Linked DNA regions of Homo sapiens: region 1 is linked to region 2. Evidence: fine-mapped expression QTL. Tissue or cell type: whole blood. Region 2 holds a variant in brackets; the other region holds the start of a gene. All regions are shown on one strand. Distances are from middle to middle.

What was found. PIP is the estimated chance that this variant, and not a neighbour inherited with it, causes the effect.
Region 1: it holds the start of RBM28, and the variant in region 2 is fine-mapped to the expression of RBM28 in whole blood (TOPMed, PIP above 0.99).

What each region holds. Positions count from the first base shown.
Region 1 is chr7:128,340,746-128,347,112 of GRCh38, forward strand. RBM28 (RNA binding motif protein 28) reads right to left here and starts at 3,163. Exons shown (of 19, transcript NM_018077.3): 1 at 2,931-3,163. The coding sequence starts at 3,048. It also overlaps the pseudogene RNU7-27P. RefSeq lists an enhancer at 3,104-3,303.
Region 2 is chr7:128,305,961-128,312,327 of GRCh38, forward strand. It overlaps RBM28 (RNA binding motif protein 28), which reads right to left. Exons shown (of 19, transcript NM_018077.3): 19 at 1-4,971. The coding sequence ends at 4,837. It also overlaps the pseudogene LOC100418961. Among named protein-coding and RNA genes, the nearest start is that of RBM28, 35 kb to the right of the region's middle. The variant T/C (reference allele first, on the strand shown) is at 3,564.

The DNA.
Region 1 (6,367 bases), 35 kb after region 2:
TGTCGATATCAAATTAAACCTTTCCAAAGCAGCTGTGCATTCTTGTCTCATTTTATCTTTAGAACACCTCAAAATAGGTAAAGCAAATATTATCACCCCTTCTTTCCAAGTAAGTAATTTGAGATGGAAGACAGTAAGTGAATTGGTTAATGTCACACAGGGTGTTAGTAGCTGAATTAACTCCTCCTCACCAGCCCCCATGTTCTTCCATAGGACTCCACAAAGAATAATATTAGGACCAAGGAGATGAAAACTACAAATATCAACTGTAACCCACCTTTGCCCTTTTTGGTTTAACATTTTGTATAGTAAAATTTTAAATAATTTATTGCATCAAAAAGGAAAAGGACAGATCAAGAAGTCTGCCTTTACCTGAAAAGGACACATAGTTCATATGCTCTGCTTCTCTTTCCACTGCATTTGAATCTCCTTCAGGGTATAAGCCCTTTGACACAGGACACTGATCTACATAAACTGGTTAAAGCAACATAACATCAATTTTTCTCTTCTCTTGAACTCCTTATCATAAAAGCTGCCCACTCACCTTTCAGAAAATGAGCACAAGAAAATTCATAGCCCTTCATGATCAGTACAACCAAAAGTAAAGCAGCTGAAATGTAAAAGAGTTTGACACCCAAATGAAAGGACATACAGTAAATACCACACATTTTACATGTCTGCATAAAGCATGCTCACATACATTTAGAGTCCCTGACAACCCTGTGAAATTATTCCCATCTTAAAGAGGTGAAGTGACATGCACTGCTATTGAGGAAGACTTCATTCCACATACCCTCCCTCCCGTTTCACTGAGTGCAGCACTCTTTCCAGTACATATCAGCTGTCTGGATAGGAAAGTGCATAGTTTTTTAAAAGGAAGTAAGAGATTTTTAAGGATTTAGACCAAGTACACAAGGTGTAAGGTAAGATTGCATGTAGCCTATATTCTGAGGACTCAAAGGAGAACTCCCATTCAATGGCCTATTCTTCCCTGGAATACAACCACCTGGGTACGGAATGCTACTTACACTGGAACCCAGTACATACATATATTCTTTATTTAAAACTTAAAAGTTTTACAAATACTTATCCTTTACCATATATGGACGTACTCCTATACTATTTAATTTTTTAAGAACTCTAGGCCAGGCGTGGTGGCACATGCCTGTAATCCCAGTGCTTTGGGAGGCCAAGGCAGGAGGATCATTTGAAACCAGCCTGGACAACGTAGTGAGACCCTGTCTCTACAAAAAATATTCAAAAATTGGCCAGGCATGGTGAAGCACGTCTGTAGTCATAGCTACTTGGGAGGCTGAAGTAGGAGGATTGCTTGAGCCCAGGAGTTTAAGGTTACATTGAGCTGTGATCGCACCACTGCACTCCAACTGTCAACAGGGTTGACAGAGCAAGACCCTGTTTCTAAAACACAACAAAACAAACTCTAGTCATGACCCACTCAAGACCCACTAATAGGTAATAATCTGCAGTTTAATAAACATTACTGTACAGGACTTTCGGTCCCTATTTTAAGTACATAAGCTTTTGTCCTATTCTCCAACAGTCTATTGGCAACACACCAGCCAGAGAGAGAATCTTTCAAAACGAATGCCAGATCACACTTACTGCTCTCTGCTTAAAATCAGTGGCTTCCTATCTCTGAGTAAAAGCCAAAGTCCTTGCAATGGTCTATAACATCCTACATGAGGCGGGCGGATCACCTGAGGTCTCGAGTTCCAGACAACCCTGGCCAACATAGCGAAACCCCGTCTCTACTAAAAATACAAAAATTAGCCAGGTGTAGTGACACTCGCCTGTAATCCCAGCTACTTGGGAGGCTGAGGCAGGAGAATGGGTTGAACCAGGAGGCAGAGGTTGCAGTGAGCGGAGATCGTGGCACTGCACTCCCGCCTGGGCGACAGAGCAAGACGCAGTCTTTAAAAAAAAAAAAAAATCTTACATGATCTGCTACTCTAGATCTCATCTCCTAATTCTCTTCCCTTTACTCACTTCAATCCAGTCACCCTGTCCTCCTTACTACTCCTCCAATATACCAAAAACACCTCTGTTTCAGTACCTTTGAGCTTGCTGTTTTCTCTTCCTGAATTGTTCTTCCTCCGGAGAGGCATGTGTTCACTCTCTCACCTCAGTCCGTCCTTCTCTGGCCACCCTATCTATATTGCCACTCTTCACCCCCTCTCCCCACTATACACATGCACATAGACTTCCTAACCCCTTTCCCTGGCTTATTTTTCTCCTTAGCATTTGACATCATTTTCACGGTTGGCTTGTTTATTGGCTCGTTTATTGGCTCTCTTCCCCACCTTGAAGACATAAAATCAAAGATTTTTTTGGTTTGGTGTTGTGCACTGCTGCATCCCCAGGACCTACAACACTTCCTGGCACACAGTAGGTATTAAGTATTTGCTGAATAAATGAATGAACAAGTGGATAGCATCCTGGCTAAGATGTCCAGGTCTGAGGATCAAATCGGGGGTCCACTACTTAACAGCCGTACAAACTTAAAGTTACTAAATTCCCCTAAATCCCGGATTCCTGTCTGTAAAATGACATTAAGACTCTCCATCCGGTAAGATTGCTGAGAAAATTAAATGAGATAACCTGTATCAAACTGATCACTGTACCTGCCAATCAGGTGACTCTCAATAAGTCTTACTGATGCTCTAGTTAACTATTTTCATTTTTAGCGCGCATAATCAACAGAAAGCGCTATAGAAACGTAAGGGAATGCTTTGCCCTTCATAAACTGACTCCTATGAACGCATCTAAAGCAGAATCAGTTTGGAAAAGAAACTCAGTTCCCTGTCCCTTCTCTTCGGGGAGGGTAAAGAATGATACGGCTCCCTGAAGTTTGGGAAGGTGCCCTCGATCGCAGGAAACCCCAGCCCTATCCTCGACCGCCCCGCCCCTACCTTTTTCAGTCACCACGAAGCACTGCTTCACCGGCCCCACCTGACTGAACAGTTCCTCCAGCTGCTCACTGCGGGCCGAGGGCGGGAGGCGGCCCACAAATAAGGTCAGGCCGGCCATGAGACCGGGAAACCCAAAGCGCGTGAGGACGCGAGCAAACTAGGCCGGCGCACGCGAGCCGAAACGCTGGCTTTGGTAGGACAACCAAGCTCACACGCCGAGAGATTCCGGAAGTGCTCGTTGCCCAAAAGAGACCGGAGGAAAACATGGTCGGGAGGGGGATAAAAGGTTCCGGAATGAAAAAATAATGGCGCCCCGGGGCGTAGCTTCTGGAGCGGGGCTCCGCCCCCTGCCCTAGCATCGCCCTCGCCACTTTTGTGTAAACTTGGCATCAATAATTTCTACCCTAGTGTTACAGCTTTTTTAGAATTTGCCTAGCAGGCTTTCTGGTTTTTGCCGGAAGGCCTCCAAAAAGTAATTTTTTTTCTTAATATACAAAATAAAAATAAATAATTTCTACCCTGTTTAAAAATCTCACCTCCAGATCCTCCCCAAAGTTAGCAGGACAGGCAGAAGAAGTCGTTTTTGCCCCGGGCGTAACTCAGGATCTGATATACTGTGGGTGTTTGATATTTTCTGAAGTGCCTCCACAAATTCCCAGATTACGTGCATAAAACACAACCGGAACACTAACACGTAGACATAGATATATCATATACATCATTCGGACGATTCTCATTTTCGGAGAACACCAGCTGTCTGTCACCTCAGCCTCACAAACAAATTGTAGCTACTAAAATACACATAGACACAGATAGTACACAATTATTATTTCAATAAATATATACTGAGCTCTAACTATGAGCCAAGCATTAGGGATAAAACTGGTGAGCAAAGAAATGACAGGGTCCCTGCCCTCATAGAGATTACAGTCTAATGGTGGAAACAGATTTTTTTTTTTGACAGGGCCTCACTTTATCAACCAGGCCGGAGTGCACTGGCACGATCTCGGCTTACTGCAGCCTCGACCTCCCAGGTTCAAGCAGTCCTCCTGCCTCAGCCTCCTGAGTAGCTGGAACTACAGGTGCACCACCACACCCGGCTAATTTTTGTATTTTTTGCAGAGACAGGGTTTCACCATGTTGCCCAGGCTGGTCTCAAACTCCTGAGCTCAATTAGCCCCCCTTAGCCTCCTAAAGTGCTAGGATTATAGGTGTGAACCACCACACCTGGCTGGGAAGACTATTAGTCCAAAAATTCTTACAAATAAATCACAGCACACACACTGCAGGACCACATCAAACACACTCAAAGCAAACATAACATCCAACTTATACACAGAGACCTAGAACCCATGTCCTCCTAGAAACAGAAGATCTTTGTCTCAAGTCAGCTCATCAGACAGACCCAAAGCTGAGAGCTCTTAATTGGCTAGGAAATCTGGGTGCTCCTGGTTCTGGAACACAGAGAGTGTTTGCCATGCCACTGGGCTCAGGACCTGAATAGGTGCAAGAGAGCTACACCTTGCAGAACAACTAGCTCAAAAAAAAGTACCCAAGGCCATTTTTTAAATAATTTTTTTTTTAGCAGACTCTTGCTCTGTCACCCAACTTGGGGTGCAGTGGCACCATCATGGCTCACTGCAGCCTTGATCTCCTGGGCTCAAGCAATACTGCCACCTCAGCCTCCTGAGAAGCTAGGACCACAAGTGTGTACCACCATGCCTGGCCAATTTATTTATTTTTTTGTACAGACAGTTCTCCCTGTGTTGCCCAGGCTAGTCTTGAACTCCTGGGATAAACCAATCCTCCCACTACGGCCTCCCAAAGTGTTGGGATTATAGGCGTGAGCCACTGAGCCCAGCCAAATCATTACTTTTAAATGATAGTAACATGGCAGATAGAAAACTCAAAAACTTTACAGTTTTAGTACCTTTTATAAGGCACTATGGTGAAAATTAAGTTTCATGATCTCCTCAAGCCCCATTCACTTTCAATACATTTTGGATGGCTAGACGACTGGTTGATAGTGATGGGAGTGGAGATTAGGGGGACGCTAAACATCACATTTATGGAGCTCTAGTTCGAAGTAAGTAATCTATGCTTAAAATAAAACTTCACGATTATTTTTTAAAAATACAACTCACGGCCAGGAGCGGCCGTGATCCCAGCACTTTGGGAGGCCGAGGTGGGTGGATCACCAGATCAAGGGTTCGAGACCAGCCTGGCCAACATGGTGAAACCCCGTCTCTACTAAAAATACAAAAAGTAGCCGGGCATGGTGGCACATGCCTGTAATCCCAGCTACTCGGGAGGCTGAGGCAGGAGAATCGCTTGAACTCAGGAGGCAGAGGTTGCAGTGAGCCGAGATTGCACCACTGCACTCCAGCCTGGGCAACAAAGGAAGACTCCATCTCAAAAAAATATATAACTCACTTTGGGAGATCAAGATGGGTAGATCACTGGAACTCAGGAGTTCGAGACTTCTGAAAATAAAATACAAGTTTATTTTTCTTTTTTTCTGAGCAGAGTCTCGCTCTGTCACCCAGGCTGGAATGCAGTGGTGCGATCTCGGTTCACTGCAACCTACACCTCCTAGGTTCAAGCAATTCTCCTGCCTCAGCCTCCTGAGTAGATGAGATTACAGGCACCCACCACCATGCCTGGCTAATTTTTGTATTTTCAGTAAAGACAGAGTTTCACCAACTTGGCCAGGCTGGTCTTGAACTCCTGACCTCAAGTGATCAGCCGTCATCGGCCTCCCAAAGTGCTGGGATAACAGGCATGAGCCACCATACCCAGCCTAAACTTTATTTTTCAACATTAGCTCCATCAAGTTCAAAACACATTTGTAAGCAATGATACCAGCCACTTAGTCCATCTCTAAAGAACTTAAGGTCTTTGGAATTTAAGCATGTCAATGCAGTCTCTCTCTCTCTCTCTCTCTCTCTCTCTCTCTCTCTCTCTCTCTCTCTCTCTCTATATATATATATATATATATATATATATATATATATATATATATATATAATTGAAGAAAAATGTGAGCCCCTTAAAGATTTTTTAAGATTAGGAAACAAAACTAAGTCAGAAGGAGCCAAAATAGGACCTTAAGGTGGATGCCTAATGGTTTCCCATTAACACTCTTGAAAAATTGCCCTTGTTTGAGAGAGGAGTGAGCAAGAGCACTGTGATGGAGAAGGGCCCTCTCTGTTGAAGGTTTCCCCTAGGTATTTTTCTGCTAAAGGTTTGGCTAACTTTCTCAGAACCCTCTCACAATAAGCAGATGTTATCATTCTTTGGCCCTCCAGAAAGTCAGACAGAAAAAAAAAAAAATGCCTTGTAGGCCCGGTGTGGTGGCTCATGCCTGTAATCCCAGCACTTTGGGAGGCCAAGGCGGGCGGATCACCTGAGGTTGGGAGTTTGAGACCAGCCTCAGA
Region 2 (6,367 bases):
TCCTTTACCACCATTATCCTCAATCACCAATCACTAAGCATTGCCATGTACCAGGCCCAGGGGCTGGGACTATGGGAGCTAGTTCTTATAGTGGCTCATGATCTACTTGGGAAGGCAAGACCTAAAGAAATGACAAGTAAGCCACAATGGCATATGCTTTGTCGAATGAGAGGGTACCAATCAGCGAGTGTGCCGGGGACTTAGAGGAAGGGGTCACAATGCCCTGGGATGGCTGAGGTCCCCACGGAGATGTTGGGCCTTGAGCCAGAACTTGAGTGCTGGATAACACTTGAGTGGAAAGGAGGGGCACAGAGACTGTCCAGATTGGAATGGACAAGGCATAGCAGAAAGTACGGTGGTACACTCAAGGCACTGTGAACAGCAGTTTATTATTATTTTTTCCTTCATGCTGTCTTTTGGGGTCCTTAGGAAATGACTCTGTTGTCCTTCACAAGCCCAGCTAGGCCCTGGAACAAATGGCCTTTAGAGAGTTCAACAGTATGAAACTCCTACTACGAGTAAATCAATGTTAGGTGTTGTGGGGTATGTGGAAAAGTGAAAAAATAATAGTCCCTGCCTTAAAGGACAAGAAATGATTTTCCCTTTATCAAATGTCCAGGGAAGGAAACTGTGGGATGACACTGTGGCAGTGAAGTCTCACATCTGATAAAAGGCAGTGGGCTCTGGGCAGCATGGACAAGTTTAAGAAACACTGGATTTGCCATCTATCAAGATGCTCCATTTAGGGGTGGTCCAAAAGGTCTTTCAGTAACTCAGCAGTTCTCTTCTCAGAATTAGTTCCCAGTCTGTGCCTTCCAATCTTCCCAGTATATTCCTTTACCAGCACAAAAACTCATGTACAGCCAATGACCAGTTCAGAATAGATGCCAAAGTAATCAGACTATACCAGTAGCTCACCCCATGTCTGGTCACCAAGTAAGCCATCACAGACTCTGCAAATAATCCTGGAAAGGAAGAGGTACCAGGACAAGAAGGAAAGAACTAAAACAAGGATGTGAATAACTTCTAAACTGGTCAGCCTTGGACAAAAGGAAATCTGGAAATCTCGACTTGGCCTGAGAGAAACCTCATCCTGGCCCTTAAAGTGCCAATTAAGGCTGAGTTGAAAAGGAGCTGGGCATCATCAAACTGCAAACAAACTTAGCTTAGGCACCCACAGTGTGATGATGTGTTTATTTCCATGAAGGAGCAGTCTATGGAGAAGTGCAGGAACTTTCAAAGTTGCATGGGCAGAGCTGCTTCTTATATGACAGAATTGGCAGCTGCCTGTCACTTCACAGTGGGTCACATGAATATGAAGCAGAGAACTGGCTGTGTGCGTCAGCAGGGGAGCTTAAGACTGCAGATTCTGGGGAATCAGCACTCACTGTGACACATGTGATCCTCTGTCTCCTCAGACAACTGAAGGATGATGAGAAGGGGATCTCTGGAGCCTTGACCTTCTGGGCCCCGAATTTCTAGCTAGAAAACCTCTTTTCAAGACAAAAACATACCAAAGTACATTTTGAAGTATTTCGAAGAATGAATCACATGCCCTAACTTTATAATAGAGGAAGGCACAGATCTCATTTTTGTGACAGGTGAAACATAATCCTTGCCACAGGTTAACTCCAGAAGAAGGAACTGTACAGCTGAACAGAGCAGATTCTTAGAAACTACAAACTAACCAACAAACAAACAAATAAGGCAAAGAACAGCTGCACATCATCTTAAGATTCCTTATTTAAAGGTTGTATCTCTAAGCCAGGCTATTATATAATCAAGCAGGAAAATACTACTAAAACTTGATAGTTTTGACTGGTGGCCTTGTCTTGGATGTTAAGAAAAAATTTGCTGTTGTTTTTCAAAATAATAGAGATGGGGGTCTCACTATGTTGGCCAGGTCGGTCTCAAACTCCTGACCTCAAGCAATCCTCCCACCTCCCGAAGTGCTGCAATCATAGGTATGAGACTCTGTGCCCCACCTGTTGTTTTTTAACCAAGCAATCTGCAACTCAACTTTCATGTTAATTCAGAAAACTCCATTTCCTGACACATCAGGCCCTGAAGTGAAGGAGAAGTGAGCACAACTCTCACTGCACTAAAATTCCCAAGGCAAGGAGTCAATGGAGCTGACCAAATAGCCCATGGTAAGGTGTTCCAAAGGAAGACACCATATATAGAATTTGACTATTAAGAAAGGGAAGATTCAACCTCATATAAAGAACTCTTTAAAGAACTGTACAACAGCTCTCCAAGCAAGTGAATGAGGTTTTAACATACTGTTAAGTTGTTAAAAGAAATATTTGGATCTAAGAGAATCTGACAATGTTATCTGAATGAACACCAATTTTGATCTATCCTAAGTGTTAAGATATATTTTTGAATGTTAAAGATATTCGTGTACTAGGGAAAAAAGAGTGGTGAGCAGACGGAGAGATGGCCAAGGAAAAACAGATCACCTGACTGGCAGGTTATAGCTATTGTGACACTCTTAATAAAGTCCCTTACTTCCTCCACACTGTACAGACCAGGCTGAGAAAGACATGTTGCCAGGCTACCGTAAGAACATTTGACAGCCCAAGTCATGTCTCGAGGTGAACTTGGAGATAAATCACCTGTCCTTTCGATCTCTCCAAAAGGTCTAAATATTTCCATGGCCTCTCCTTCATCCATTTCTAAACCAAAGGCATTTCAGAGCATTCATGGGTTCCCCAAGATATTGCGATGAAATAACCATGTCTCAACCAGGCTCATGCCTGTAATCCCAGCACTTCAGGAGGCTGAGGTGGGCAGATCACAAGGTCAGGAGTTTGAGATCAGCCTGGCCAACATGGTGAAAACCCGTCTCTACTAAAAATACAAAAATTAGCCGGGCGTGGTGGCAGCACCTGTAATCCCCGCTACTCGGGAGGCTGAGGCAGGAGAATCGCTTGAACCCAGGAGGCGGAGGTTGCAGTGAGCCAAGATCATGCCATTGCACTCCAGCCTGGGCAACAGAGCAAGACTGTCTCAAAAAAAAAAAAAAAAAAGAAATAACCATATCTCTAGCTCAGCAATGGTTCTGTCAAAGCATTATTTGTAACACTCAACTAGACTAAGCAATCAAGAATTTTGGGCCACGTTCTCAACTTTTTCTCTTGCCTACTGAATACTGTTTCTTCCTTTCCTACCTTATTTTTTTCATTCAACAAATATTTATTCAATACTTACTACGTGCCTGGGTCAGTACTAGGTGCTGTGTCTACAGGAGTGAACAAGAGGGATAAAGTCCCTCTCACAAAGCATACATTCTAACTGGAGAGACAAACAATTTCAGATAGAGATTAGTGCTAGAAAGAGACAAATGATTTCAGATAGAGATTAGTGCTAGAAAGAAACAGGGAAGCAGGCCAGGCGTGGTGGCTCACGCCTGTAATACCAGGACTTTGGGAGGTCGAGGTGGGCGGATCACCTGAGGTCAGGAGTTCAAGACCAGCCTAGTCAACATGGTGAAACCCCATCTCTACTAAAAATACAAAATTTAGCCAAGAATGGTGGCGTGCACCTGTAGTCCCAGCTAC[T/C]TGGGAGGGTGAGGCGGGAAAGTCGCTTGAACCCGGGAGGTGGAGGTTGCAATGAGCTGAGACAGCGCCATTGCACTCCAGCCTGGGCGACAGAGTGAGACTCCATCTCAAAAAAAAAAAAAAAAGAAGAAGAAACAGGGAAGCAGATTTCAGTAAGGGGGCAAGATAGAGGGGAGGGGAAGAAAAGCCCTACTTTAGATAGTCTGGGAAGAGCTCCAGGAGGAGGCGACAACTAGTGGAGATCTGAGTGACAAGTAAAAGATGCAAGGGAAAAACTCTCCAGGCAAAGGGAACGGATACAAAGGCTCTGAGGTGGTCAAGAGTCAAGAGATGGAAGGAAGGCCTGTGTAGCCAAAAGTGAATGAAGAAGAGAGTGGATAAAGACAAGCAGAGGTGATAGGGCTGAAGAGCCCAGGGAATCAAATGTTATAGGAAGACAAGATTTCAATCAAAGTGAGATGTCAAACCCCTGGAGTTTTTCAGTAGGTGTGAAGCCATCTTAAGGGGCAGACTTAATGAGGATCAAGTGTCCTCATTAAGGAGGACTTAGAGAGCTAGTGGATACGATGAAAAGGGAGGTGCTCTATGAGAGAAATGCAGGTCATCGCTAACCAGGCTAGTGTCTTTAGGCCACTGCAGGCCAATTCAACTGGAAATCCCCTCATCTGACAAACACATAAGTGCTGCTCTCTGTCAGGCCCCACCTCCCCCCATTCTTTTCCAAGTGTCTCCGCCTGCAGCGATTAGGTTAGAAAGCATTTCTCTCTGCTCTCGCTTAGACAGTTCCTGCAGTGTGTAAGACTACAGAGCTGAATTAGGAATGTCAAAGAATGTTCATACATAATAAAGGAGTCACACATATTAGAAATGACGTTGTTACTAAAAAGCCACACAATATCTCATTTAGAGAATATGCTTAACAAAATATACATCTTAAAAATTCAGCACTCCAGAATGCTTTTTCAGGTGTTTCCATTTGAGAAATAAAGAATAAAAATTGGTAATAATTATAGACACAACTTCATACAATAATCTGGATAATATGCAAGAAGCATCATGTTGACTTTCAGATATTTCTCTTTGTGGCTAACGAACCACACATCAAAGGATGGACCAAAGTTCAGATGTACACAGTCCAGGGCACCTCCGAGCACAGTGGCAGTGCCCTTGGGGATTTTCTTTCCCTCAGTGAGAGACACGGGGGATGGGGAGGAGCCCAGGAGTGTCACCAGAAAGTACACAACCCAGCTTCTTACCCAGCCTGCTGCCATCATCAACTATCAAACCATTTGCTCCTCTTTGCAAGAGGTGCTCCTTTAGAAGGTCCCAATAATTTCTGCTTATATTGTTCGACCAGCTGGTTGAAGCGGGTTTCCGTCTTATTTCCCTTAGCTTTTTTCCTAGATACCTACAAATGAAAGGATTAGAAACATAATATAATCAATTTCAAAGACTATATATCACCTTACCCTCAGGCCACCCAAGAGAGAAAGTAAGTGGGACAGAGATCATATCTACCAGAAAGGGGTAGGTTTCTAGAGAGAGACTCTTAGAGAGAAAGGCTCAAACAGAATCATCCACTGGTAAGAAATTAGACCAAGAGTGAGTGCACAGGGAGCAGGGCCTGACTAACCTCCCTGTCTGCTGGGGACTCAGGGGCCTCTCTTACTCTAGCTCCCAAAGGCTCACTTTAGCCTCAAAGCAGATGAGTCAGCACAGAGTCCGGCCATTCTTGCTTGCCTGTTCCCTCCCCAAGAACACTGCTCATGGGATTTCAGAGATCTCTATACTATAGTACGGTATACGTCAGAAACTTCCCAGACACAGATTTCTTGAGTAGGATGGGAAGCTAATGCTGCTTTTACCCTTAAAGGAAAGAGACTAGGGAAGGGGAGAAGCAAGCTTGACTTCAAGTGTTCAAGAATGTAGGACCACCGTTTTCTACTAAAAGGAACTAAGGCTCCTTGGGAAAATGGCTAATGTCAGGACTGGGGAAGAGGTACCTGAGCTGAGCCTGGGACATCCTGCACTAGAAAGCAAGGATACTACCAGACAAATACGCCACATCAGAAAGACTCAGAAGCCAACCTGCAGGGGCTTCTGCCAGCCTTACACAGAGTAAGAATAATGACAGTATTTGAAACACATCAAGCATATGAAAACTCAGGATTTCATAATACTAAAAAATGAGCCAGTATGGCAACAGCTCATTACTCTGAAAACTAACAGAGAGAGAGAAAAAAAAAATCAAGCATTTATCCTGTCTTTCCTACATAAATGATATTTTGTGGTAAGCAAATAATTGACAAAGGAAGATTTTTCTTTCTAGGGTTCTAATTAAAAATGCAAAAGGATAGAAGTTTAAATAATCAGCATTCTGTAACCCATAATGAAATAATGGATCTGGTAACACTCATCAATAACTGCTAAGGCCATTACATGAAAGGCTAATTGGGAACTTCATCAATGGAGGGATAAGGCAGATAATCCTCAAATCTACTGATCAATCCCAGAATCACTAAAAATGGGCAACCAGGTAGTATGTGCCTCAGGCGATATAAGGAAACACACACACCACCTATGAAATACTCTCTTCAAGAAAACTGAACTTGAGGCCAAGCACGGTGGCTCACACCTGTAATCCCAGCACTTTGGGAGGCCGAGGCAGGCGAATCACCTGAGGTCAAGAGTTCAAGGCCAGCCTGGTCAACATGGTGAAACCCCGTCTCTACTAAAATACAAAATTAGCTGGGCATGGTGGCGCATGCCTGTAATTCCAGCTACTCGGGAGGCTACTCCTGGAG